Linked DNA regions of Homo sapiens. The protein of the gene in region 3 interacts with the protein of the main gene of each other region in a biochemical or structural test. Each region holds a gene or a part of one and is shown on either strand. Other genes may lie near its edges.

What was found.
Region 1: the proteins of APPL1 (region 3) and DLG4 interact in a test that uses a peptide from one of them, tested with the Homo sapiens proteins (one large-scale study listed by IntAct).
Region 2: the proteins of APPL1 (region 3) and MPDZ interact in a test that uses a peptide from one of them, tested with the Homo sapiens proteins (one large-scale study listed by IntAct).
Region 4: the proteins of APPL1 (region 3) and TJP1 interact in a test that uses a peptide from one of them, tested with the Homo sapiens proteins (one large-scale study listed by IntAct).
Region 5: the proteins of APPL1 (region 3) and TJP2 interact in a test that uses a peptide from one of them, tested with the Homo sapiens proteins (one large-scale study listed by IntAct).
Region 6: the proteins of APPL1 (region 3) and RBBP7 form a complex in vitro, tested with the Homo sapiens proteins (one study listed by BioGRID).
Region 7: the proteins of APPL1 (region 3) and RHPN1 interact in a test that uses a peptide from one of them, tested with the Homo sapiens proteins (one large-scale study listed by IntAct).

What each region holds. Positions count from the first base shown.
Region 1 is NC_000017.11:7,207,628-7,211,127, reverse strand, and holds part of DLG4 (disks large homolog 4), read left to right. Parts: intron 1-2,888; coding exon 2,889-2,954; intron 2,955-3,500. UniProt on the Homo sapiens protein: Postsynaptic scaffolding protein that plays a critical role in synaptogenesis and synaptic plasticity by providing a platform for the postsynaptic clustering of crucial synaptic proteins.
Region 2 is NC_000009.12:13,224,193-13,227,692, reverse strand, and holds part of MPDZ (multiple PDZ domain protein), read left to right. Parts: intron 1-3,109; coding exon 3,110-3,319; intron 3,320-3,500. UniProt on the Homo sapiens protein: Member of the NMDAR signaling complex that may play a role in control of AMPAR potentiation and synaptic plasticity in excitatory synapses. Promotes clustering of HT2RC at the cell surface.
Region 3 is NC_000003.12:57,258,729-57,262,228, forward strand, and holds part of APPL1 (DCC-interacting protein 13-alpha), read left to right. Parts: intron 1-299; coding exon 300-352; intron 353-1,116; coding exon 1,117-1,291; intron 1,292-1,388; coding exon 1,389-1,425; intron 1,426-1,899; coding exon 1,900-2,046; intron 2,047-3,500. UniProt on the Homo sapiens protein: Multifunctional adapter protein that binds to various membrane receptors, nuclear factors and signaling proteins to regulate many processes, such as cell proliferation, immune response, endosomal trafficking and cell metabolism.
Region 4 is NC_000015.10:29,717,969-29,721,468, reverse strand, and holds part of TJP1 (tight junction protein 1), read left to right. Parts: intron 1-760; coding exon 761-1,111; intron 1,112-1,452; coding exon 1,453-1,692; intron 1,693-2,330; coding exon 2,331-3,203; intron 3,204-3,350; coding exon 3,351-3,448; intron 3,449-3,500. UniProt on the Homo sapiens protein: TJP1, TJP2, and TJP3 are closely related scaffolding proteins that link tight junction (TJ) transmembrane proteins such as claudins, junctional adhesion molecules, and occludin to the actin cytoskeleton.
Region 5 is NC_000009.12:69,177,277-69,180,776, forward strand, and holds part of TJP2 (tight junction protein 2), read left to right. Parts: intron 1-766; exon of another isoform or gene 767-853; intron 854-3,500. UniProt on the Homo sapiens protein: Plays a role in tight junctions and adherens junctions. Acts as a positive regulator of RANKL-induced osteoclast differentiation, potentially via mediating downstream transcriptional activity.
Region 6 is NC_000023.11:16,853,363-16,856,862, forward strand, and holds part of RBBP7 (histone-binding protein RBBP7), read right to left. Parts: intron 481-3,500; coding exon 320-480; intron 1-319. UniProt on the Homo sapiens protein: Core histone-binding subunit that may target chromatin remodeling factors, histone acetyltransferases and histone deacetylases to their histone substrates in a manner that is regulated by nucleosomal DNA.
Region 7 is NC_000008.11:143,371,876-143,375,375, forward strand, and holds part of RHPN1 (rhophilin-1), read left to right. Parts: intron 1-1,856; exon of another isoform or gene 1,857-2,259; coding exon of another isoform or gene 2,260-2,418; exon of another isoform or gene 2,419-2,422; intron 2,423-3,500. UniProt on the Homo sapiens protein: Has no enzymatic activity. May serve as a target for Rho, and interact with some cytoskeletal component upon Rho binding or relay a Rho signal to other molecules.

The DNA.
Region 1 (3,500 bases), on a different chromosome or scaffold from region 3:
CCCCTCCCGACGTTTCTCCCCGCCCCCCTACATGTACGTCGAAAATTTCCAGAGACTGAACCTAGTCCCTAACCTCTTCCAGCCACATTCTGGAAACCCTGGCACCCATTTCTTGTTCCCCATTTTCTCCATGTTGCCTCCCAATCCTGAGGAGCCTTTTCTTCAGTGCCAGACACCACCCTCCCTCCATGGGGGTGGGGCAGGGAGAGGTATTGGGGGCTCGCTGAGATAAAAGTTTACCTTCATTTCCTCCCTAGAATAAATGATGAAATGGCCCTCCTCATGTTTCCATTTTCTTTGGGTGCACGCTGACATTTCCTCCTCAGATTCAGGAATTTTCTCTCTGAGGTGGAGTGAAGATGGAGAGGCACTGGACTCAAACCCTCCCCCAGACTCCAAAACTTGGAGCTTTGGTCCTAATTTACCTTGCAGGGAATTGGAGGCCTTGTGAAGGAAGAGTGGATAGCGGAGAGCGGCTTCCACCCCTTCCCCCAGGTCTCAATTCTGGGGCTTGCCCCTCAGCTTGTGCACTGCCCAGGTAGAAGACCACCTTCTCAGGATGTGGAATGAACAGTCTCTGTTGGTTCATAGAACTCCTTTATTCAAGACAGCTCAGCCTTGGAGGAGGGCTATTTTGTGTGTTCTCCTATTTTCCTTCTCTACTTTTTGTGCCCATCGGATTGAAATCTGGAGTTCAGGATTCTCTCCAAGTCTGTGGCCCAGAGAATAGACTCAATCTTGCTGAGCCCGTTTTCCTTCTTTAAGACTCTTTAAATGTATCAGGGTGCTTCTTGATTTGAGTTGTCTCTGTGTTCTGGGTTTGAGAGTTTTCGTGCTGACAGGACCACTTCCCTTCTCCCATTCTCTTACTGTACCCTTACTCTACAGCCAAAGTTGTGTTATATTCTCAGCCTTGATTCATCATCTTTAACATTTTCAGAATCCTACTCAAGGATTGGCCATTGACCTTGATAAGCTTCCTCCCATTTGATCTCGCAGCTGCTGCCCTCTAAGTATTAGGGCACTCTCAGCCTCTCAGAAACTTTTGGGAGGGAAATTCTGCTCGCCCTCTCTCTTTTTTGTTTTGGAGATGGAGTCTCACTCTGTCGCCAGGCTAGAGTGCAGTGGCATGATCTCGGCTCACTGCAACCTCCGCTTCCCAGGTTCAAGCAATTCTCCTGCCTCAGCCTCCCATGTAGCTAGGATTACAGCCATGTGCCACCACGCCCAGCTAATTTTTGTATTTTTAGTAGAGATGGGATTTCACCATGTTGGCCAGGCTGGTCTCTGACCTCAGGTGATGTACCCACCTCGGCATTATAAGCATCAGCCACTGCTCCTGGCCTCTCTCTCTTTTTGAGACAGGGTCTTACTCTGTTGCCCAGGCTGGAGTGCGGTGGCGTGATCATGGCTCACTGCAGCCTCCACCTCTTGGGCTCAAGCAATCCTCCCACCTCAGCCTCCTTAGCAGTTGGGACTACAGGTGTGCACCACCATGCCTGGCTAATTTTTGTATTTTTTGTAGACAGGGTTTCACTGTGTTGCCCAGGCTGGTCTCCAACTCCAGCTCCTGGGCTCAAGCTGTCTGCCTGCCTCAGCCTCCCAAAGTGCTGGGATTGCCGTGCCTTCTCTTTTTACCCATGTGTACTGGGCGGTGCATTCTGTCTTCTTCAGTTCCTGAGGGATCCCTGCGTATGATACCTTCCCCTTCCTGAACCTGGAGCTTGGAGGGTCAGTCTCTGTGGAGGCCCGTTCCAGAGGAGAGGAGCAGGCGAGGGCAGAGGCGGACACGGAAGGACCCAGGCAGAAACGCTGTCTTCTTCTGCTGTCTCCATCTGCCCTTTTCCTCCTTCTCTGGCCCCCAGTTAATCTCATTTTACTGTTGTCCCTATTAAGCTAGCACAGGAGGCCCTTGGGATGGCAGCTGATTAACTGGGCAGGGAGTCAGGGGTCATGTTGGGCCTTTCACCCCAAAAGAGCAGAGGGAGACCAGAAATTCACTCTGAGGCTCAGCATGCTACCCTCCTCCCCAACCAGGGAGGCTGGCACCCATTCTTGCCCCTGTCCTGAGCCCTGCTGTCTCTGTTCTTCCCCTTCCTCCCCCAGCCCATGCCCTTATAGCATAACCGGATTAGCTGGCTGGGCTGTGGGCTGTTGCAGGGGTAGGGCCAGACTCCCGGGGCCCCTCTGTTGACTGCTTGGAAACCAGCAAGGGCAGTGAACTGGACAGGCTTAGCCTTGTCCTGTCTCGGGGGCTGATACCAAGTACCTTCTGGTGGAAGGGGTGACTTCAGTCCTTGCCTAAGGAGTGCAAGGTAAAGGAGAGCCAATCACCTGTGGGGTAGAGGCTGCAATGGGGAGACTGAGGCCATGGAGGTGGGGCGCGGGGAGGATGCCATGCAGAGTAGGAGCAGCCAGAGGGGTAGGGGAGGGGAGGCTAGAACAAGAGTGAGTCTGAGATGGTGAGAGAAGCAAGGAAGTTGGGGACTGGAGGCAGAGAATGGAGATGTGAGTGTCGGGGCTAGAGCTCTGAGAAGCTGGAGGGACTCGAAGATGAAGGTGGTGGGGAAAGGGGTGAAGACACAGATGCCAGAGGGGCTATGCCCACCAGAAGGCCAGTGTCCCAGGATGTGAGGAGTAGGAGTTGGGGGATGGGATTGGGACCTGGGGATTGATGAGAGGTGCTGAGGCCCTGGCGGGAGAGGGGGCTGTTGGGAGAGTGGAGAGAGGGGAGCCAATGGGCTAGAGGAGAGGGAGGGGGAGGAGCTGGTCAGGCCCCAGGGCCTTCCGCACTGCACTGGCTGGGGGAAGAGGCGGCGGCCAGGGCGGCCAGCCTGGAGCCTGAGGCACCGGGCTGGCCCCAGTGACACCTCCGTCCCCATCCCCAGAAATACCGCTACCAAGATGAAGACACGCCCCCTCTGGAGCACAGCCCGGCCCACCTCCCCAACCAGGTAAACGCCCCCGAGCTGGTGCACGTGGCGGAGAGGAACTTGTCCCACCTCGAGGCTGGCCACGGGGTCGTGGGCCACGCCCACCTCTCCCCCTTCAAGGTAGGAGACCCTGGTGGCCCCCTCCCCAGTGCGGCCCTCGGAGCCTCGGAGCTGCAGCAATCCCTAAGGGCCGGTAGGGTGAGAGAGAGCCGTGGGGAGGGGGATGCTGGGACTGGGGGCGGGGGTTTGGGGCTTGGGCTCCTGGGGTCTGGGGGAGGGGGCGTTTGTGGGGCTGGAAACACCTTGGTCCCACAGAGGAGAAACAGGCCAGGCCAATGGGAGTGGATGTAAAGCCTAAAGCAAGAATGTGTGTGTGCGCGCGTGCCTGTGCGCGTGTGCTGTGTGTGTGCCTGTGCGTGTGTGCATGCATGCGTGCCTGTGTGTGTGCTGTGTGTGTGTGTGCGTGCGTGCGCCGTTTGTGTGCCTGTGCGTGTGCTGTATGCGTGTGTGTTGAGGTGTGTGCATCCCCCAAGAGGCCCCCACGCCTGGGACCTCTTCATTCCTTCA
Region 2 (3,500 bases), on a different chromosome or scaffold from region 3:
TACTTGTTCTGCTCTCACTCACTTTACTCTTAGAATGCCTGTATACCTACTCTTTCATAATATCAGAGCTTCTCTTTTACCATGAATCTCTTACAGACAGACTCTCTATTCTCGGGATGCGATTTGTTCATTCTGGCTTACCATAGCATAAGTCCAAATATTTTTTCCTATGCAAACATACCATAGCCATTAGGTCTTGGTGTGTGGGATCCTCAGGCTGTCACAAATTTCATTATGCCATCTGCTTCAACCTGAGCTGCGTGTCTTCTGCTGGCAAACTTTATTGAAGTTGCCATGGCTCAGGATAAAAAAAAAATCAATCTTGGCATAAGAAGCTTACTTTTGAAAAAATAATAATTGATCATGCCTGCTATAGATTTTAAAATAAACATTTAAAAGGATTCCCAAAAGTCTCTTCTCAACACATTGATCTCTTTTTCATCTGTGATTGTAGAAAGCTAATATAATGGTTAAGTTATTGGTAACTTTGGTAACTTAATGAGTTTTCTGTTTTATTTTTAAGGATAGGTAACAAACTCTTATGTATAGATTTTGGTGACATATTGTGAAATATTTTGATAGCTTCTGTCAGTGGATGTTCTTTACCTAATGTTTTATTTTAAATGATATCTCAAATGTTTTGTGGATAATACAAGGACTGTATGTTTTCTGTATAATACAAGGATGATAGGAACACCGTGATGAAAAAAAATCTAGGTCACAAACAACTTAGCTGTGTGACTTTACGTAATTTCATCATCCTTAGCATTGAGATGATACTTGAAAGGTTGTTCAGGAGATTGGATCAGAGTTAGATCCTTAAAAAATAGATAAACATTTTTTTTCTGCCAATGTATGTTGAACAACTCTGTATAAGGCATTCTTCTAGAGAACGAGGGCATAGTAAAAATAAAATAGTCAAAAATTTCCACTGGAGAGTTTTTGCATTCTAGTCGGTCTCCACTGACTGGGATGAAAGCTTCATGACAGCAGGGTGTGGATCAGGTGGTAATGAGTGCCATGAATTAAAACAGGGCACAGTAAGTTCGTGGAGTATAATGGTGCTGTCTTAGATAGGAATGCGAAGGAGGACTTTTCTGTGGTGAGATTAGGCACACCTGAATGAAATAAGGAAGCATGTGGATATTTGGGGAAGAATATACCTGTTTGGTAGAGTGAACAGCTTGGCACTTTGAGGCACAGTGAGGAGGGGAGCACAGCTAGGGCTAAGTGGGTGAGGGACAGACTGCTAGGAGATGAGGTCAGAGAGTGACTCAAAAACATCAATGAAGTAAGCTTTCTGATAAGTAGTTACAGATAAAAAGTCACAATCCAGGCACCCAACATAAATATGAAATTAGGATTGACTGCATTGCTTTATTATTATTTAGATTTAACTTCAAACTCTTTTAAAAGGCACACACAAATAATTATAGAATCATTTCCCAAAGTGGGATGATCTTTTCCGTTGTTGTTACGTGTGTCATTGTACTTGGAGTTAGCCAGACAGCACGATTTGAGGGCACAGTCCTCCAGACTGCCAGTGCTGCCCCACACTTCTGATACCAACTGTGGCGAGTTAGGGTCCAGCTACAAAGTTAAAGGTATAAGGATACACAAAACCACCCTCACTTATGATGTCAGCTGCAAATTTGCGAGGTTCCCCTAGCCACCTTGAGGTTTCATAATTCACTAGAAGGTCTTAGAGAGTCTCTGAAATCTGTTAAACTCATGGTTATGATCTATGGTAGGGAAAGGATGCAGTCAAGAGTCAGCCAAAGGAAGAGATGCGTAGTGCAGATTATGGGAGGATTCCAAACTGGAAGCTTCCATTTTGCTGGGAAAGTATAACTCTCCCAGAATCGATGTGTGACAATATGTATAGAGTACAGCCATGTGTCATTAGGTGATTTCATCCTTGTGCAAACATCGTAGGGTATACTTACCCAAACCTTGGTGATATAGCCTACCACACAGCTAGGCTATTTGGTATTGCTCCTAGTCTACCAACCTGTACAGCATGTTACTATATGGAGTACTGTATGCAGTTGTAGCACAATGGTAATTGTCTGTGTTTCTAAATATAGAAAAGGTACAGTAAAAATGTGGTTAAAAGGTAAAAAATGGTACACCTGTATAGGAGACACGTACCATGAATGGAGCCTGCAGGACTGGAAGTTACTATAGGTGAATCAGTGAGTGAGTGGTGAGTGCATGTGAAGGCCTACGACATTACTGTACACTACTAGATAGTCAATATACTGTATGCTACTAGATAGCCAATATAATGGTTGAGTTATTGGTAACTTTGGTAACAATGAGTTTTCTGTTTTATTTTTAAGGACAGGTAAAAAACTCTTATGCATAGAGTTTATACATAAGTTATAAATACTGTACACCTAGGCTATAGTAAATTTACAAAAACTTCCTTCAATAATAAATTAACCTTAGCTTACTGTAACTTTTTTTTCCTTTATAAAGTCTTAATTTTTTTTTAAACTTTTGACTCTCATAATAGCACTTAGCTTAAAGCACAAACACATGTATAGCTGTGTTTGACTGTGTTGCAAACCCAGGAAGATTACCTGATCTTGGTGTTCAGCATTTTTTATTGGCGTGTTATTTCATAGGTGTGATTGATTGCCCTGCCTATATGATTAAAATTCAGCTCCGAGTTTGGGCTTATATCATGTGGCCTTGGGGCCCACCATGAAGAAGAAAGATACCTCATCACTCAGGAAATTCTGAGAGGGGAAATTCTGAGAGTTTAGAGGTTACTTCATAGGATCTGGGGACAGAAAAATATATGTGTGGATGTATATATTTATGGGTGTGTTTTAATGAGTACCCTGAAGTTGAACCCTGGCGGTAGTTTTTGAATTTTCCCATCTAATAAATGGTGCTGCATTGAACATTTAGTGATGCACACACATCTTTGTGTATTATCCTAATGTTCATCCTTGAAATAAATTTCCCAAAATAGAATTGCTGGATTAAAGGATTTGGACATTTTGAAATTTCATTTGTATGTCCTTGTACCCTTGGGATATTTTCTATGAAATAGTTTATGGAATGTCAAAATTCTTAATAATCCCTGCATTACTCTTAGGTAAATATTGCAACTTCAGCAACTTCAAATATTGAATATGCCCACGTTCCTCATCTCAGCCCAGCTGTGATTCCTACTCTGCAAAATGAATCGTTTTTATTATCCCCAAACAATGGGAATCTGGAAGCACTTACAGGACCTGGTATTCCACACATTAATGGGAAACCTGCTTGTGATGAATTTGATCAGCTTATCAAAAATATGGCCCAGGTAAGAACATTTCTTTCTGTTAGTTATTGTAATACCTGTAGTAATTTAAGAATGTGATCAAGTTATGGATAATTTGAAGAATATAGTGACATTTATAACATCTGAAAACATTGGAACAAAAAGTCAGTTTTGTGGGAGTTTAGATGGTTCAGACGTTTTCTATTACAGTTTTATCATCATT
Region 3 (3,500 bases):
GCTAGCTTATTTAAATTCAAGAACTTTTGCAACATGGTTTATTATGTTGATTTTTTGTTGTGTATGTCTAAACTTCCAATTCATCTGTGTCTTCTAAAGTGCACCAACATTGATCAGTTAGTGTGTGAGGGCAGAGGCCTTCATCATAGTAATTTAGTGATCAATAGTGTTTCTTAATAGGATGGGGCATTTTAGAGCTTTTTTTTTTTAAATGTTAACTGTGGTTTTAATAATTAGATTTCTTCTATGTGGCTCATGGTAACTGACCATGTGTTCATATTTTCTTCTAAACTTTTTAGGCGTACAAATCCATTTGGAGAATCTGGAGGAAGTACAAAATCTGAAACTGAAGGTAAGACAGATGTGCAGCATTCATATATTTTAGAACTGCTTCTCAGCAAACTGTGAATAATTTATTGTTTATATTTGCTCTGCTACTAAGCTCAGTTTTAATGCTATCTTTACTTCAGAATTTCCTCTACTTACTTATAGTACACTTGAAGCAACAGAACTTAATCTGACTTAAGATGTTGTGATTCATACAAAACGATAGACTCTCATACTTTTGACTTTATAGTCAAATTCAGTGCCTAAGATACCTTTCAAGCTTTTCCTAACAGCTGATGTTTCTCTTCTGGTACTGGAGCATAAATTTTGTTTTTCCGCCACTAACTATTTATTTGAATTCTAAACTTACAGAAATGCTGTAAGAACCACCAGTTGTTGTGTGTTTGTGTGTGTGTGTGTGTGTTGAGACAGGGCTCCCTATGTTGCCTAGGCTGGTCTCGAACTCCTGGGCTCAAGGGATCCTCCTGCCTTAGCCTCCCAAAGTGCTAGGATTACAGGTGTGAACCACCACGCCTGGCCTCAGAACTGCCAGTTGTTGAAGCATTACTTTTAGCTATTTGAATTTGAAACCCTAATTTTCCTATAACTTGGAATACTGTAGTTAGGAGTTATTTTGAAATGTCTCCCTTAGGCTGTTGAATTTTTCACTAGAAAACCTAAAAGGAGGCAGTGTATTTTATTCTTTTGGAAAAGAAATATGGCGAAAAAAATAAAATGTAAATTTATACAGTAAAAAAAAAATATGTAATACACCTTGTTCTATTATAGATTCTATTCTTCATCAGTTATTTATTGTCCGATTCCTTGGTTCAATGGAGGTGAAATCAGATGACCATCCAGATGTTGTTTATGAAACTATGCGCCAAATCTTAGCTGCCCGGGCCATCCATAACATCTTTCGTATGACAGAATCGCATTTATTAGTCACTTGTGACTGTTTAAAGTAAGTAAAACCCTCCCTTAAAAAACTGTAGAAAAAACATTTACATGATTTCAGCCTAATTAAAATTTGTTTTCCAATTTTTAAATTATTATTTTAGGTTAATTGATCCACAGACACAAGTTACAAGGCTCACGGTGAGTTCCACATGATTTAAGCTTTGTTTTAGGTCCCTTTGTATATATACACATCTTACAACTTGATAATAATCCTGATCCTGTATATTCAAGTGTGATAGTATCAGCTATGATTGGTCTTTGGCTGTTGTAGTTAAGTCTATGGCCATCTCCAAAAAGTTGTCATTGAACATTTTATGTAACTTAAAAGAATTAACACAATTCTTTTTGTAATTTTTTTAACACAGTTCTTTTTGACTTTGTAAAATGTGTTAATGACTAATAAAACAAATGTAATATTCAACAACCTTTTTCTGCTTGTTAATTCAAACCAAATATGACATTACTTGTTTCTGCATTACAAGTCTGTTAAAATAATTGGCTTTAATATATTAAAATATTTATATTTTTAGAACTTAGCATATGAGTTTGTCACAAGTGCTGCTGTAATGACTTGTAAGATCTCATGTTTGCTTCTGATGTTTTCTGTGGCAGTTTCCATTACCTTGTGTAGTTTTGTATGCTACACACCAGGAAAATAAGCGCCTTTTTGGATTTGTTCTTCGGACATCAAGCGGGAGAAGTGAAAGTAATCTGTCATCAGTCTGCTATATATTTGAGTCAAACAATGAGGGGGAAAAGGTACATGGCTTTTCAGAATATCTCTGTCATAACCACTTACTAATTGATTCTTACTAAGATTTAATAATAATTAAATTCTTACAAATTAAATTAGTTAGTAATTACTGATTGAATTCTTTACAATTTATACAAATTTATGAGGCACATGTGAATTTTGTTACATGTATAGAATGTACAGTAAGCAAGTCAGGGTATTTAGGGTGTCCATCATCCAAGTACAATACATTTTTGTGAAGTATAGTCACCCTACTCTGCTGTCAGATATTAAATATATTCTTTCTATCGTAATTTATGGTTGTACCCTTTAATCAGCTTTTCTTCATCCTCCCCCTTTCCTCATCACTCAGCCTTCCCAGTCTCTGTTGTCTGTCATTCCACACTCTGCCTCCACGTGATCAATTTTTTGGCTCCCACATACAAGTGAGAACATGTGATATTTGTCTTTTTGTGCCTGGCTTATTTCACGTAAGATAATGACTTCTAGTTCCATCCACGTTGTTGTGAATGACATGATTTCATTCTTTTTATGGCTGAATAGTACTCCATTGTGTATATGTACCACATTTTCTTTATTCATTTATCTGTTAATGAACATTTAGATTGACTTAATATCTTTGCTATTGTGAATAGTACTACAGTAAACATGTGAGTGCAGGTATCCTTTTGATACAGATTTCTTTAATTTTGGGTAGATACCCAGTAGTGGGATTGTTGGATCGAATGGTAGTTCTATTTTTAGTTTTTGTTGTTGTTGTTGTTTTTGAGACGGAGTTTCACTCTGTCGCCCAGGCTGGAATGCAGTGGTGCGATCTTGGCTCACTGCAACCTCTGCCTCCTGGGTTCACGCCATTCTCCTGCCTCAGCCTCCCGAGTAGCTGGGATTACAGGTGCCTGCCACCATGCCCGGCTAATTTTTTGTATTTTTAGTAGAGACGGGGTTTCACCGTGTTAGCCAGGATAGTCTTGATCTCCTGACCTCGTGATCTGCCTGCCTCAGCCTCCCAAAGTGCTGGGATTACAGGCGTGAGCCACCATACCCGGTCTATTTTTAGTTTTTTGAGAGATCTCCATACTGTTTTCCATAGTGGTTGTACTAGTTTATGTTCCCACCAACAGTGTATGAGTTCCCCTTTTTTCTGCATTTCACCAACATCTGCTATTTTTTGTCTTTTTAGTGATAGCCATTCTGACTAGGGTAAGAATGGCTCATTGTCATTTTGATTTGCATTTCTCTAATGATTAGTAATGTCGAGCATCTTTTCATATACCTGTTGGCTGTTTTTGTGTCCTTTAAGAAATGCATATTCATATCCTCTGCATACTTTTAAGTGGGATTATTTGATTTTTTCCCTGTTGAGTTCGTTGTATATTCTGGATATTAGTCCCCAGTTGGATGAACAGTTTGCAAATAATTTCTCCCATTCAACAGGTTGTCTGTTTACTCTGTTATTTCT
Region 4 (3,500 bases), on a different chromosome or scaffold from region 3:
TGCTTCTGGGGAGGCCTCAGGCAACTTACAATCGTGGCGGAAGGGGAAGGAAGCATGTCTTATATGGCTGGAGCAGGAGGAAGAGAGTTGGGGAGGTGCTGCACACTTAAAAAAACAGATCTTGGGAGAATTCTATCACAAGACTGTGTGAGGGAGATGGTGCTAAACCATTAGAAACCACCCCCATGATCCAGTCACCTCCCACCAGGCCCCTCCCCCAACACTGGGGATTACAATTCAACATGAGATTTGGGTGGGAACACAAATCCAAACCATATCAGTTGTTTCCTAAACATAAATATATTAGCTCTTATTCAACTTTTGAACTGTTGGGTTTATTTCATAGGTATTCTTCCATGTGCTATTCTGTCAGTGTGTCCTTGTTTCTGTGAGCTTAGTTTGGTAACATTCTCCCTCTTCCCCTTGCTTAAAAGGGCTGAAGAGCTAGTGAGTAGGTTTTATAAATCTGAGCAGTGTCAGAGTTTCTTCGTTGTCTTCCAGGGCTGGGCCCTGGAGTCTAACTTTGTCCTGGCTTACCGGCCACTGTTTCCTTCATCCATGCCCTTCAGATCTCAAGGGGTGCTCCATGTGTCTGCGTGTGTGCTTGTACAATCTTCTTGACTTTTCCTTACCAGAAGTTTCAAGAAGTAGATGTGACTTCTCCAGAGAAAGATATCCTTTTCAATCTGCCTTGTACGATAAAGGCCATCTCTTAAAGAACTACTGAATAAAATTTGTAATTTACTTTTATTTGACCCAGGCGGATGGTGCTACAAGTGATGACCTTGATTTGCATGATGATCGTCTGTCCTACCTGTCAGCTCCAGGTAGTGAATACTCAATGTATAGCACGGACAGTAGACACACTTCTGACTATGAAGACACAGACACAGAAGGCGGGGCCTACACTGATCAAGAACTAGATGAAACTCTTAATGATGAGGTTGGGACTCCACCGGAGTCTGCCATTACACGGTCCTCTGAGCCTGTAAGAGAGGACTCCTCTGGAATGCATCATGAAAACCAAACATATCCTCCTTACTCACCACAAGCGCAGCCACAACCAATTCATAGAATAGACTCCCCTGGATTTAAGCCAGCCTCTCAACAGGTAAGCAGCAAGCATTCAACGTTTTGTAGATAGAGGTGCATTATTAAATTTTAGAATGTGGTGATTGAGTTAAAAATATATATGTTGTCCTTTCTCCAGATTAAGAATTAATCTTCAATTTCAATTTGAGAGTACCAAGGGCTTAATTCTAAATTTTGTGTGTTTGTCTTAACACAGCAATGTACTGGATTTTTTTTTTTTCCCAAAAAGTTTAGGACATGAGGTCATAATTTTGTTATTCAGCACACTTAAAATGTATGTCTACCAATCACTATAAATTGAAGTGGAAAGTTAGCAGTAAACAGAAACACTATATTTAAAATATTTTAAACACTTCACAGAAAGCAGAAGCTTCATCTCCAGTCCCTTACCTTTCGCCTGAAACAAACCCAGCATCATCAACCTCTGCTGTTAATCATAATGTAAATTTAACTAATGTCAGACTGGAGGAGCCCACCCCAGCTCCTTCCACCTCTTACTCACCACAAGCTGATTCTTTAAGAACACCAAGTACTGAGGCAGCTCACATAATGCTAAGAGATCAAGAACCATCATTGTCGTCGCATGTAGATCCAACAAAGGTACCTGTGCTGCGGTGTTGCACTAATTTGTTGCTGTCCATCAATCTGGCACATGATCATTTTTGCTTTGCCCTTTAAGTGTTCCTTTTGCTTTTTTACTGCAGGCTTATACACTGTAATGCTTTCAAATCAATACAAATCATTTCAGTTTCGTAGTTTGCATGGCTTCCATTGGTATACTGATTATTTGAAAACAGGCCTTTTAATTGAGATTTGTGCTTATTATTTTTATTTTTGGCTTTCAGTATCTTCCAGAATTCCTTAATATGTAATCGAAACCCATCATAAACATATTTATGTTAATACAAATTATGATGCCCATAAATCTTCTTTAGGATTTTTCAGTGTCAAAATGAAGTGTAATCAATAGTGCATTAATTTTCTACTAAATTTAATATTTATCTTTAACTCACTGTTTATTTAGTACATGCTGAAACATAAAAGCCCCTACCTGCATTATAAATTTTGAGCTTTCACTTAAACCAGCTTTTTCCACTAATCTTGTCTATCCTGATAATAAATGGTAAAACATACCATTTTCACATATTAAATCGTAGTTTAATATTTAATCACAGTCTAATAAAATAGACTAGAATTAGAAACAAGACTTTGTCCTTAAATGTGAATTTTTTATACAGGTGTATAGAAAGGATCCATATCCCGAGGAAATGATGAGGCAGAACCATGTTTTGAAACAGCCAGCCGTTAGTCACCCAGGGCACAGGCCAGACAAAGAGCCTAATCTGACCTATGAACCCCAACTCCCATACGTAGAGAAACAAGCCAGCAGAGACCTCGAGCAGCCCACATACAGATACGAGTCCTCAAGCTATACGGACCAGTTTTCTCGAAACTATGAACATCGTCTGCGATACGAAGATCGCGTCCCCATGTATGAAGAACAGTGGTCATATTATGATGACAAACAGCCCTACCCATCTCGGCCACCTTTTGATAATCAGCACTCTCAAGACCTTGACTCCAGACAGCATCCCGAAGAGTCCTCAGAACGAGGGTACTTTCCACGTTTTGAAGAGCCAGCCCCTCTGTCTTACGACAGCAGACCACGTTACGAACAGGCACCTAGAGCATCCGCCCTGCGGCACGAAGAGCAGCCAGCTCCTGGGTATGACACACATGGTAGACTCAGACCGGAAGCCCAGCCCCACCCTTCAGCAGGGCCCAAGCCTGCAGAGTCCAAGCAGTATTTTGAGCAATATTCACGCAGTTACGAGCAAGTACCACCCCAAGGATTTACCTCTAGAGCAGGTCATTTTGAGCCTCTCCATGGTGCTGCAGCTGTCCCTCCGCTGATACCTTCATCTCAGCATAAGCCAGAAGCTCTGCCTTCAAACACCAAACCACTGCCTCCACCCCCAACTCAAACCGAAGAAGAGGAAGATCCAGCAATGAAGCCACAGTCTGTACTCACCAGAGTTAAGATGTTTGAAAACAAAAGATCTGCATCCTTAGAGACCAAGAAGGATGTAAATGACACTGGCAGTTTTAAGGTAAATATGTCTTTAGTGCCTTGGATGCATGGGCACACCGTTTAAAAGGCTTCTTGGCTCTCCCCTCCGCCATTACATGATATCTATTCTGTTAATTATCTGTTCCTTAGGCATATTTGTCTTTTTTTTTTTTTTTTTTTTAAACAGCCTCCAGAAGTAGCATCTAAACCTTCAGGTGCTCCCATCATTGGTCCCAAACCCACTTCTCAGAATCAATTCAGTGAACATGACAAAACTCTGTACAGGTGAGTACACTTTGTGCTCTTTGTGGCATAGAACTGACCAGGAATTTAACCC
Region 5 (3,500 bases), on a different chromosome or scaffold from region 3:
GGGAAGCAGAACAGTTTTCTCTGGTGTTTTACTGAGTTTTTGTCTTGATCCTAAATCCAAGGGTTAGGGTCAGAAACACAGACTCAGAGGTTAGATTTAACACCCATTTAGTGGGTTAAACACATCAATGGTTATGTGAACTTTGTTAAGGTTTAAAAAGCTATTTAGGGCCTGTTTCTCCCTCATAGGAATTTTTGCAATCAGCCTTTTTAGTAGATGCCCATATAGAAAGTGAATTTGGGAGGGTCTAAGGTGGTATTACTATTAAACTTTTTGAAAAGGCTGTGTGATAGCAATGGAAAAAAAAATTCAGGCATGGAAATCCAATATGCAGTATTGCAGTAGCTAGTTTTAATTTTATTTTTGTTTTTTTGGTTTTTTTTTTGGAGATGGAGTCTTGCTCTGTTGCCCAGGCTGAAGTGTGGTGGTGCGGTCTTGGCTCACTGCAACCTCTGCCTCCCGGGTTCAAGCGGTTCTCTTGCTTCAGCCTTCAAAGTAGCTGGGATTACAGAAGTGAGCCACCGTGCCCGGCCACTAGTTTTAATTTTGGATGGTACCTAGGAAAGCAGTTGAGCTAGTATGCTGCATACATTGTAGTGTGAGAGGCAGAGTTCCGAGTTGGAGAGTGTCTGCTTCCACTTTTTCCATTTGATTAGGAAAAGCACTTCTTAGAACTGGGTGACTGACAGCTAGAGCCCCAGAAGACCTGCACAAGCTGGGGCAATGGCTACCCATAACAGTGACGGCTCCATTCTGTTTTTTAAAGGGATTGGTGTCTCTATCATCCAGCTGGCCATTAAACAACCAAAGCTTCATCATCCTAGATAACCTGTGAGCTCTCAGAGGAGACAGAGTAAGGACTATCATACCCCCAAAATACCTAATCATTTAATAAAGCATTTTCTCTACCTTTTATGCTATCCCAAAACAGTGCTTTCCAAAGTCTGGTATACAGACAGACTTACAGGTGGTGCAGAGAGATACATATTCTATTTTTCAATTATGATGCATGAATATTATATGTTAGGAATAAAAACAGAAAACCAGCTACCACATCCATTTATTTCATGGCTAGATTGCTTAGAATGAGGCAAAAATAAATATTAAGTAAAGCAGTGAGTTTGCTTTAAGAAAAATTATCAACTCTGGGAATGAGTAATATGAGGCTAAGGCAAAAATGGTAAAGCTAGCCCTTGACATCTGAGGTGTGCATAATACTGCTTAAAATATGAGTGTGGTGCTTACTTATAGAGAGCCTGGTATACCTTGACCACGCCTTCAAGAAAGTCAAACACAGAATGGCCCAGAATAGCCAGGAAAGTTGAATTTGATGGACTTTCTGTCTTAAGCGTGTGCATCCTGCTCTTATCCACTCAGATCTCTTAGATGTGGTTGCAGACAGTGTATTTGTAGAGCTAGCTGTTTGTTTTAACGTCTGGCCCAATTCTCATTCCTTTCTCTGCTTCCACAAGCCATTCTGCAGTTTTTAAAGGTCTGTTGGTATGATATTTTTGATATGATAGAGTGATAGGGGAGGAAGTATTTTGACACTGATGAAGGACATCACTGTATTATCAAGTGACTCTTGCTCATGATTCATTGCCGAAGAATGTGGACAGCCAAACAGCCTCACCTGTAAATGCATTTAATTTCTCAAAGTCTTTCAGAAGAATGCCAACTGGATGAGTTTTTTTTTCTTATTTTTTTTTTAATATGAAGCTTGTATTGGTCTGTAAAATAGGCTTTAACAAGGATTTTCGTAGGAACAGGAAGCCTTGAGGTAGAAAACAAGTATCCCTGCTTTGACCTAGAGAGATGCATGCTCATGGCAGGCGAATGAATCAAGGAGAAGAGAAAATACTGTTTCAGTAGACTCTCTAGTGATGTGTGTGTTCACACCATTTATGAGAAATCCTAAGCTTTCAATTAGTAACTTGTACTTTAGTCATTTAAAATCAGCACAGATGTTTGTTTAGTGCCTCTGCCAGATGGTTAAAGTTAAATCAGGTTTTTTAACCTGAAAAACGTAATGTAGCTTTCCTTAACCATTTACACACCATTGTATATTGCAGACCATAGTCAGATACATTTTGTTATAATGAATGTTTATTTTACCTTTTAGCTCAATTAGAATATCAGTGGTTATGGTTTCTATTTTGTTTTCCTACAGTTACTGTATGGGGGTGCAGTAACAGCGGTGGTGGTGAAAGTAAGTTACTTTTTTCTTTTTCTTTCTTTTTTTTTTTTTTTGAGACGGAGTCTCCCTCTGTCGCCCAGGCTGGAATGCAGTGGTGCGATCTCGGCTCACTGCAAGCTCCACCTCCCGGGTTCACGCCATTCAGCCTCCCCAGTAGCTGGGACTACAGGCGCCCGCCACCACGCCCGGCTAATTTTTTGTATTTTTAGTAGAGACGGGGTTTCACCATGTTAGCCAGGATGGTCTTGATCTCCTGACCTCGTGATCCACCCGCCTCGGCCTCCCAAAGTGCTGGGATTAGAGGTGTGAGCCACCGCGCCCGGCTGAAAGTGAATCTCTTAATGGATCTTCCATGAATCAAATATTTGTGTTTTAGTAAGTTAGGCTGACCAAAAGATTTCGAATCATACCTTTAATCATGGCAAGGATCTTATGTCACATTCTTGAGTACACATGTTCACTAAATTTTACCTATATGTGTATGTGAACATGGACTTCAGAATTAATTAGTGTGGTAATTATTATTTCTATTGTAGACTTTAATCAGCCATATTAAATATATGCATTATGTTCACAGAGAAAACATGGTATCATCTTTGGAAACTTTACAGTATGCTCTATATTATAGATACCCTATATAACTATGGTACTAAACACACGAGTTAGTGACAAGTCAGGCATTTGGAGGGAATGTTTGTAACCCATTGTGGGAGAGAGTTATTAGAATAGTTATTCTTACTGGTAGGTAACAGTTATGGCTGTAATGAATAGAATGTGACTAAAATCCAGTTATGCCTTTGCCATCGTATTAAAAGCTTTGGTGGAGACGTGAGAACATTGCAGATACTTTGGATTTTGTCACTTGAGTTGAAGGTAAACAGAGAAAACAGTACTTTCTAGTCATCAGTAGGAATTAACTCTTCCAGGACATGTAGCTTCAAGGACCTTCTAGGTTCTTCTGAGGGGGAAATAATGTTCCACTTGGGGCCATTTTTTTCCATTTGTTGAGAGTCATTTGTTTTCAGAGTATTAAAGGAAGTGTTCCGAGTTCTAGGTTGTGTTTCTTTGATGCCTACTAAAGCTGAGCACACCTGAGACCCTGGGTGGAGCTCTACAATGGGAATAGGAGTAAGTAATGTAGGCTTCGAGAGACAATCATTCTGCTCTCAGTCCTTGGAAGACTGTTCCTAGGTATATATGGCAAAGCAGATGAAATTATTTGAGGGAATTAATTAGCAAAACTAAACATTTCTGTTTTTGAAAGGAATGAATCATTTGGAAGGAACTTCCTGGTGAGCTCAGT
Region 6 (3,500 bases), on a different chromosome or scaffold from region 3:
CCATACCTAGTTTTCTTTTTTTCTAAATAATAAGTGATCCTCCCACTTCAGCCTCCTGAGTAGCTAGGACTACAGGTGCACACCACCATACCCAACTAATTTTTTGTTTTTAAATTTTGTGTAGAGTCTCACACTCCTGGTCTCAAGCAATCCTCCTGCCTCAGCTTCCCAAGGTATTGAGATTACAGGAGTAAGCTACCTAAAGCTGTTTTTTAAAGCCATAACTTAAAAAAAAAAAATCAAACTACAGCCTGCAGCAATCACTGATGGTCATTCAGGTCACCCATTTAACAAGATCCCACTGAATTTTCCACCTTACATCATAAGTTTCTGATCATCAGCAACAGATCCAAACAATGACTCGTGCAGCAGGTGCCAGGCCACATCCTCTACAACAGCTGAGTGGCCAGTAAAGATGGCTTTAGCATCCACAATTTTGCCTTCTTTTGGTCCTGCGTTTATATCCCACAGACAAACAGTCTAAGAGAGAAGGAGAGAAAAAAAAAAGAACAAGGGCTATAAGAGACTGATTTTTTTTTTTTTCCCTCGAGACAGTGTCTCAGTCTGTCACCCAGGCTGGTGCGATCTCGGCTCACTGCAGCCTCCGCCTCCAGGGCTCAAGCGATTCTCCTGCCTCAGCCTCCTGAGCTGGGATTACAGGTGCAAGCCACCATGCCTGGCTCATTTTTTTTGTATTTTTAGTAGAGACGGGGGTCTCACCATATTGGCCAGGCTGGTCTTGAACTCCTGGCCTCAAGTGATCCGCCTGCCTTGGCCTCCCAAAGTGCTGGGACTACAGGTGTGAGCCACTGTGCCCGGTCAAGAGATTGAATTTAAATGCTAACATCTTATTTAAAATAATTTCATTACAAACAAAACTATTCAACTATATAAGTTTGAGGTAAACACAAGAGAGAAAATATAAGCAAACAGAAGAGTATGTGGCTGCAGCCTCCATGTGAGGTGCAGAGGAAAAGGACACTCCACTGTAATGAGGGGGAGGGGAGACTGAGTACAGTGGCAGGCAAGGACACTGATGCTGGAATTTCTACCTACATACATTCAGACATTCAAGTACCCCAAATTCACTTAGACAACACAACAAATCACCAAGAGCCCGGCGCTCAGCATCTACTGAACACAAATGCACATCCTAAAAGTTTACACTGGGATGGGAAGACTGGGAATTAAAATTAAACTCTGCCTCTCACATAGCAAAAGCCTCATGGACAAGTCTTTCACTTCATGGCAGAAACCACCACAGACATCAGGAGATGGGACAGGTAAACGACACTGGGCCAGAAACCTCTACTAGTCTACTCTGAGAGGTCAAGGCCTGGCGCCCACAGACAGATCCCCAATGATGTGCTCCTTGAAACGTCAGCAGAGCCCAAGCAGAGGCCATGGGGCCTCTGCTTGGGCCTCAAAGGTCACAGCAGCCCACAAATAAGGAGGCCTCATGATGTGGGCCTTGACATCCTATCACAGAAAGAGTTAAGAGGAAAGTTTTAATGAAAAAATATTGCAAGGTATAGGGCAACGATTCTCATTCAATAGTTAATAAGAAATAATACCATGAAGGTATATTAGCACTAATTATAGTTCCACCGACACTGGTATGGGTTTTTTTTTTTTTTTTAATTCATAGCACGTGATCATGAAAGGGCTTCATCTGTTTTTATTAAATCACCTTTTTTTTTTTTTTGAGACGGAGTCTCACTCTCTTGCCTAGGCTGGAATGCAAGGGCACAATTTTGGCGCACTACAACCTCCGCCTCCCGGGTTCAAGCAATTCTCCTCCCTCAGCCTCCCGAGTAGATGGGATTACAGGTGTATGCCACCAAGCCCAGCTAATTTTTTTGTATTTTTAGTAGAGACGGAGTTTCACCACGTTGGCCAGGCTGGTCTTGTACTCCTGACTTCAGGTGACCCACCCACCTTGGCCTCCCAAAGTGCTGGGATTCCAGGCGTGAGCCACTGTGCCCAGCCACATGAAGGACTTTCTGTAACAAAGCTATTTCCCAGTAATGGCTATTTTCCCAGTAACAAAATTTTTTTTTACACAATACATATGCCCTCAGTCTCTGTTGTTACTTACACATGAAGACACTCAATGTGTGTGAACTGAAGAGAAAGGAACATGTGGTGCTCCTGCCATTCACACTGACTCAGAAGGACCTGGCAAGATTAGCATGATGCTTGGCATGTGGGTAGCCCCTGGTAAATGTCAGCTATTATTATTACTACCAATTCCCAGCCTGGTCTCTTCAAAAGGTACTAGTAATTGGGTTACTGAGTACAATCCACTTATCCACTTTCCCTACTTGGGAAACCGTCTCATACACACTTTGAGGGAAGCATCCTTTCAGAGAGCCTATAATCCCAGCTCTTTGGGAGGCCAAGGAAGGTGGATCACTTGAGCCCGGGAGTTCAAGACCAGTTTGGGCAATACGGCAAAACTCCATCTCTACAAAGAATACAAAAATTTGCTGGGTGTGGTGGTGGGCGCCTGTAGTCCCACCTACTTGACAGGCTGAGGTAGAGAACCACTAGAGCTGGAAAGGTGGAGGGTGCAGTGAGCCGAGACTGAGCCACTGCACTTCAGCCTGGGTGACAGAGCAAGACCTTGTCTCAAAAAAAAAAAAAAAAAAAAAAAAAAAGTGAAAAGACAACAGAATGGGAGAAAATTTTTGAAAATCATAGGGACTTATACCTAGAATACATAAGAAACTCTTATAACTTGACAATAAAAAGACAAAATTAAAATATGGACAAAGAATTTGAATACCTATTTCTCTAAAGGAGATATGCAAATGGCCAGTAAGTACAAGAAAAGATGCTCATCATCATTAGTCATCAGGGAAATGCAAATTAAAACCACAATGAGCTGGGCGTAGTGACTCATGCCTGTAATCCCAGCACTTTGGGAGGCCAAGGCAGGAGGATTGCTTGAGCCCAGGAGCTCAAGACCAGCATGGCCAACATGGTGAAACCCTGTCTCTACTAAAAGTACGAAAATTAGCTGGGTTTCATGGTGCATGGCTGTAATCTCAGCTACTTGGGAGGCTAAGGCAGGAGAATCGCTTGGACCTGAGAGGTGGAGGTTGCAGTGAGCTGAGATCGTGCCACTATACTCCAGCCTGGGTGACAGAGACAGACTCCGTCTCAAAAAACAAACAAAACAACAACAACAACAACAACAACAAAAACCAACTCCCCACCCCCAAGCCAAAAACAAACAAAAAAAAACCCAGGAAATACCACTTTATGCACACTAGGATAGCTATAATAAAAAAGACAAGCATTAGTGAGGATGTAGAGAAACTGGAACATTTGTACATTGCTTGTGGAAATGTAAAATGGAAAGCCACTTTGGAAAACAGTTTGGTAATTCTTCAAAAAATTAAACAGAGATACCATATGATCCAATAATTCCACTCCTAGGTATATATCCAAGAGAAATAAAAACATACATCTACACAAAAACTTGTAAACAAATG
Region 7 (3,500 bases), on a different chromosome or scaffold from region 3:
TCTATGCCCCTTCCACTGGGCTCAACCTTCAACCCAGTGTGGAAAGTGGGGCATGGGCCGCCCACCTCCAAGGTCTACCCAGCCTCAAAGGTCCGGCTCGGGTCTGCTCCTCCGCCTGTAGGCCGGGAAGTCACTTGGCCTGCAGGGAGCACTGCGGGTAGGGAGGCCGAGGAATGGACCAGGCCCACAGCAGGTGCCTGTGGGGCTCCAAGGGGCCAGGCTCCCCGCAGCTCTCCTGGGGCCAGGAGGGGAGCAGGGACCTGGCTGGGTGTCTGATGCCCGTCGCACAGCCAGAGCCCTTAAAGCTGCTGGAGCCTTGCAGCGGGGCCTTTGCGGGGAGGGGGTGTAGCTGCGGTGGGTGGCACGGGGGTCTCCTAGGTACTGGGCAGAGGCCCTCGAGGTGGTAGCGCCGGTGGGAAAGGTAGGGATGGGAGGCGGGGGTGGGCGGGCCTCAGGTTCAGGGAGCTTCTCAGATCTGAGGCGCCCATGCCCCTCTCCCACCTGTGGGCCTCTCCAGCCCGAGTCCCTGAAGCAGCTCTGGAGGGAATTTCTTTTCTGGAGGAGGCGGGAGTGAGAAACGGGAGCAGGGTGAGGGTTCCCAAGTGCACATCGGCCCGTCCGCTGCTGGGTGGTGTCCACGGGGGCAGGGCTGGGCTGGGGGAGGCCAGGGTCCTGGGCCGGCACACCCTCCTTCCGGCTGCCTGTGTCCCTCCCTCCAGCTGCCTGTGTCCATCCCTCCGGCCGCCTGTGTCCCTCCCTCCGGCCCCTAAGCGCCAACTCATCTTCAGTTCAGGGACCTCCGTCAGGCTCCCTCACCCCAGCACTCAGCAGGAGGCTGCCGGCCTGGGTGTCCAGGGGATGGTGCGGGTGTCCAGCAGACAGTACAGGGGTTTGGGGGATGGTACAGGTGTCTGGGGGATGGCGTGGGTGTCCAGCAGATGGCGCAGGGGTTTGGGGGATGGCACAGGTGTCTGGGGGACAATGCGGGGGTTTGGGGGATGGCGTGGGTTCCAGGGGATGGTGCAGGGGCTTGGGGGATGGTGTGGGTTCCAGGGGACGGTGTGGGGGTTTGGGGATGGCGCGGGTTCCAGGGGACGGTGTGGGGGTTTGGGGATGGCGCGGGTTCCAGGGGATGGTGTGGGGGTTTGGGGATGGCGTGGGTTCCAGGGGACGGTGCGGGGGTTTGGGGATGGCGTGGGTTCCAGGGGACGGTGCGGGGGCTTGGGGGATGGTGTGGGTTCCAGGGGACGGTGTGGGGGTTTGGGGATGGCGTGGGTTCCAGGGGATGGTGCAGGGGCTTGGGGGATGGCGTGGGTTCCAGGGGATGGTGCGGGGGCTTGGGGGATGGTGTGGGTTCCAGGGGACGGTGTGGGGGTTTGGGGATGGCGCGGGTTCCAGGGGATGGTGTGGGGGTTTGGGGATGGCGTGGGTTCCAGGGGACGGTGTGGGGGTTTGGGGATGGCGCGGGTTCCAGGGGACGGGGCGGGGGCTTGGGGGATGGTGTGGGTTCCAGGGGACGGTGTGGGGGTTTGGGGATGGCGTGGGTTCCAGGGGACGGTGTGGGGGTTTGGGGATGGCGCGGGTTCCAGGGGACGGTGTGGGGGTTTGGGGATGGCGCGGGTTCCAGGGGACGGGGCGGGGGCTTGGGGGATGGTGTGGGTTCCAGGGGACGGGGCGGGGATTTGGGGGATGGCGTGGGTTCCAGGGGACGGTGTGGGGGTTTGGGGATGGCGCGGGTTCCAGGGGACGGGGCGGGGATTTGGGGGATGGTGTGGGTTCCAGGGGACGGTGTGGGGGTTTGGGGATGGCGCGGGTTCCAGGGGACGGGGCGGGGATTTGGGGGATGGCGTGGGTTCCAGGGGACGGTGCCTCATCCTCCAGTCTCTGTCTCTGCCTTCCCATGGCCACCTCCATGTGACTGTGTTCAAATTCCCCACCTCGTATAAGGACCCTTGTCACTGCGATTAAGGACCCCCTACTCCAGGGTGGCCTCATCTTAACTCATTATATCTGCAAAGACCCTATTTCTAGAAAAATTGCAGTCACAGGTACTGGGAGTCAGGACTTGAACCTGTCTTTTGTGGGGACACAATTCACCCATAATAGATGGTCACCCGCTCAGCTGGCTGCTGTGATTTTGGGGGGCTGGACGAGCAGGCCTTCTGTCTAGGAAATCAAACCTTTCTTGTATAATGGGAATAAACTAATTAAAATGCACACAAAGATCTCGTTCACATTAGCAAAAAGAACTCTCTCCAGATATCTAGGAGAAAACCCAGGAAAACACGTGTGAGCTCTTTACGGGGAAGACGGGAAGGCCTGAGAGACGTGTGTGCGTGGAGAGGGTGTCGGGTCCACAGAGGGGAAGACCCAGTGCGTGTGCACGTTGGCCCCATGAATCCGCAGCTTCATGCAGTGGTAGGTCAGTTTCATGGTGGCAAGATTCACCTTCAGACGCCACAAGGTCCTGGGGAAGAAGAGGTCCTGTCTCCCGACAAGGGCGGGAAGCAGTCCCAGGAGCCACCAGAGGCCTTGTCTTGCTGCTGACTGGCAGAAATGGCCAGGTTGGCCACGCCTGACTCAGACCAGGCTCGCCCCAGGGCTGGGTGGGAGTCAGTGTCCCTGAGCAGTGAGCCCTGAGCAGCACTGTGGGTCTCAAAGCATGGAAGGAGTGGGTGCTGGAGAGGCAAGCCAGCCAGCCCACGCCTGGGAGCCCACCCAGGGGACAGCCACAGGTAGCTGCAAATAATCTTGTCCGGGTGGAGACCCAGGCATTCCCACATGGCCACGGGGAAGAGTGGGGGTTGGGAGGCCATGGTGAGAGGGAGGGACACGTGAGGATCATGTGGGCAGGACCCCAACACCACAAGGGTGGGGTGGGCTGAGGCATGAAACTGGATCTCCCTAGAGTGAAATGTAAGCTCCAGCACGCTGGCACCACTGACGACACAGGAGCCATCAAAGTCCAGAAGGGGCCCCGCTGGGCACGCCCCACTCTTTCGCCATGGCTGGTGCTGGGCAGGGCCGCGGGGCTGCAGTCTGGGTGCAAGGCTCAGAGTCATTTCTCTGTGGATAGGGAGGGCACGGGTGTGCGTTCGCTTCGAGAACCATTCCCAAAGTCAGACCGCAGCCTCTGCACCAACCATCGGGGGCCAGTGGCCGCCCCCAGAGCCTCAGGGACCCTGTCCTTTGAGCCCACGCCTAAACCCACATGGGAATGATTTGGAGGCGTGGGTGAGTTGGATGGGAAAAAAATTGGGAGGGGCAAGGGGGGGATCCAGAATGAAATCCAGAAGCGCAGAAGGAAGGCTGTGAGGAGCAGTGGGCCGCCTCCTGCAGGGCTCCCGGAGCCCCTACTTGTCCAGGCTGCCTGGTGAGACCCTGGCTTCTGGTGTCCTTGGCAGGTGCCAGCCTCCCCCGCTGACCCCCATCACGAGTCAGCAGCTTACCCCACCGACCACGTCCTTCTGCATTGACTGCCTCCTGTCCTGCTCTGGCCA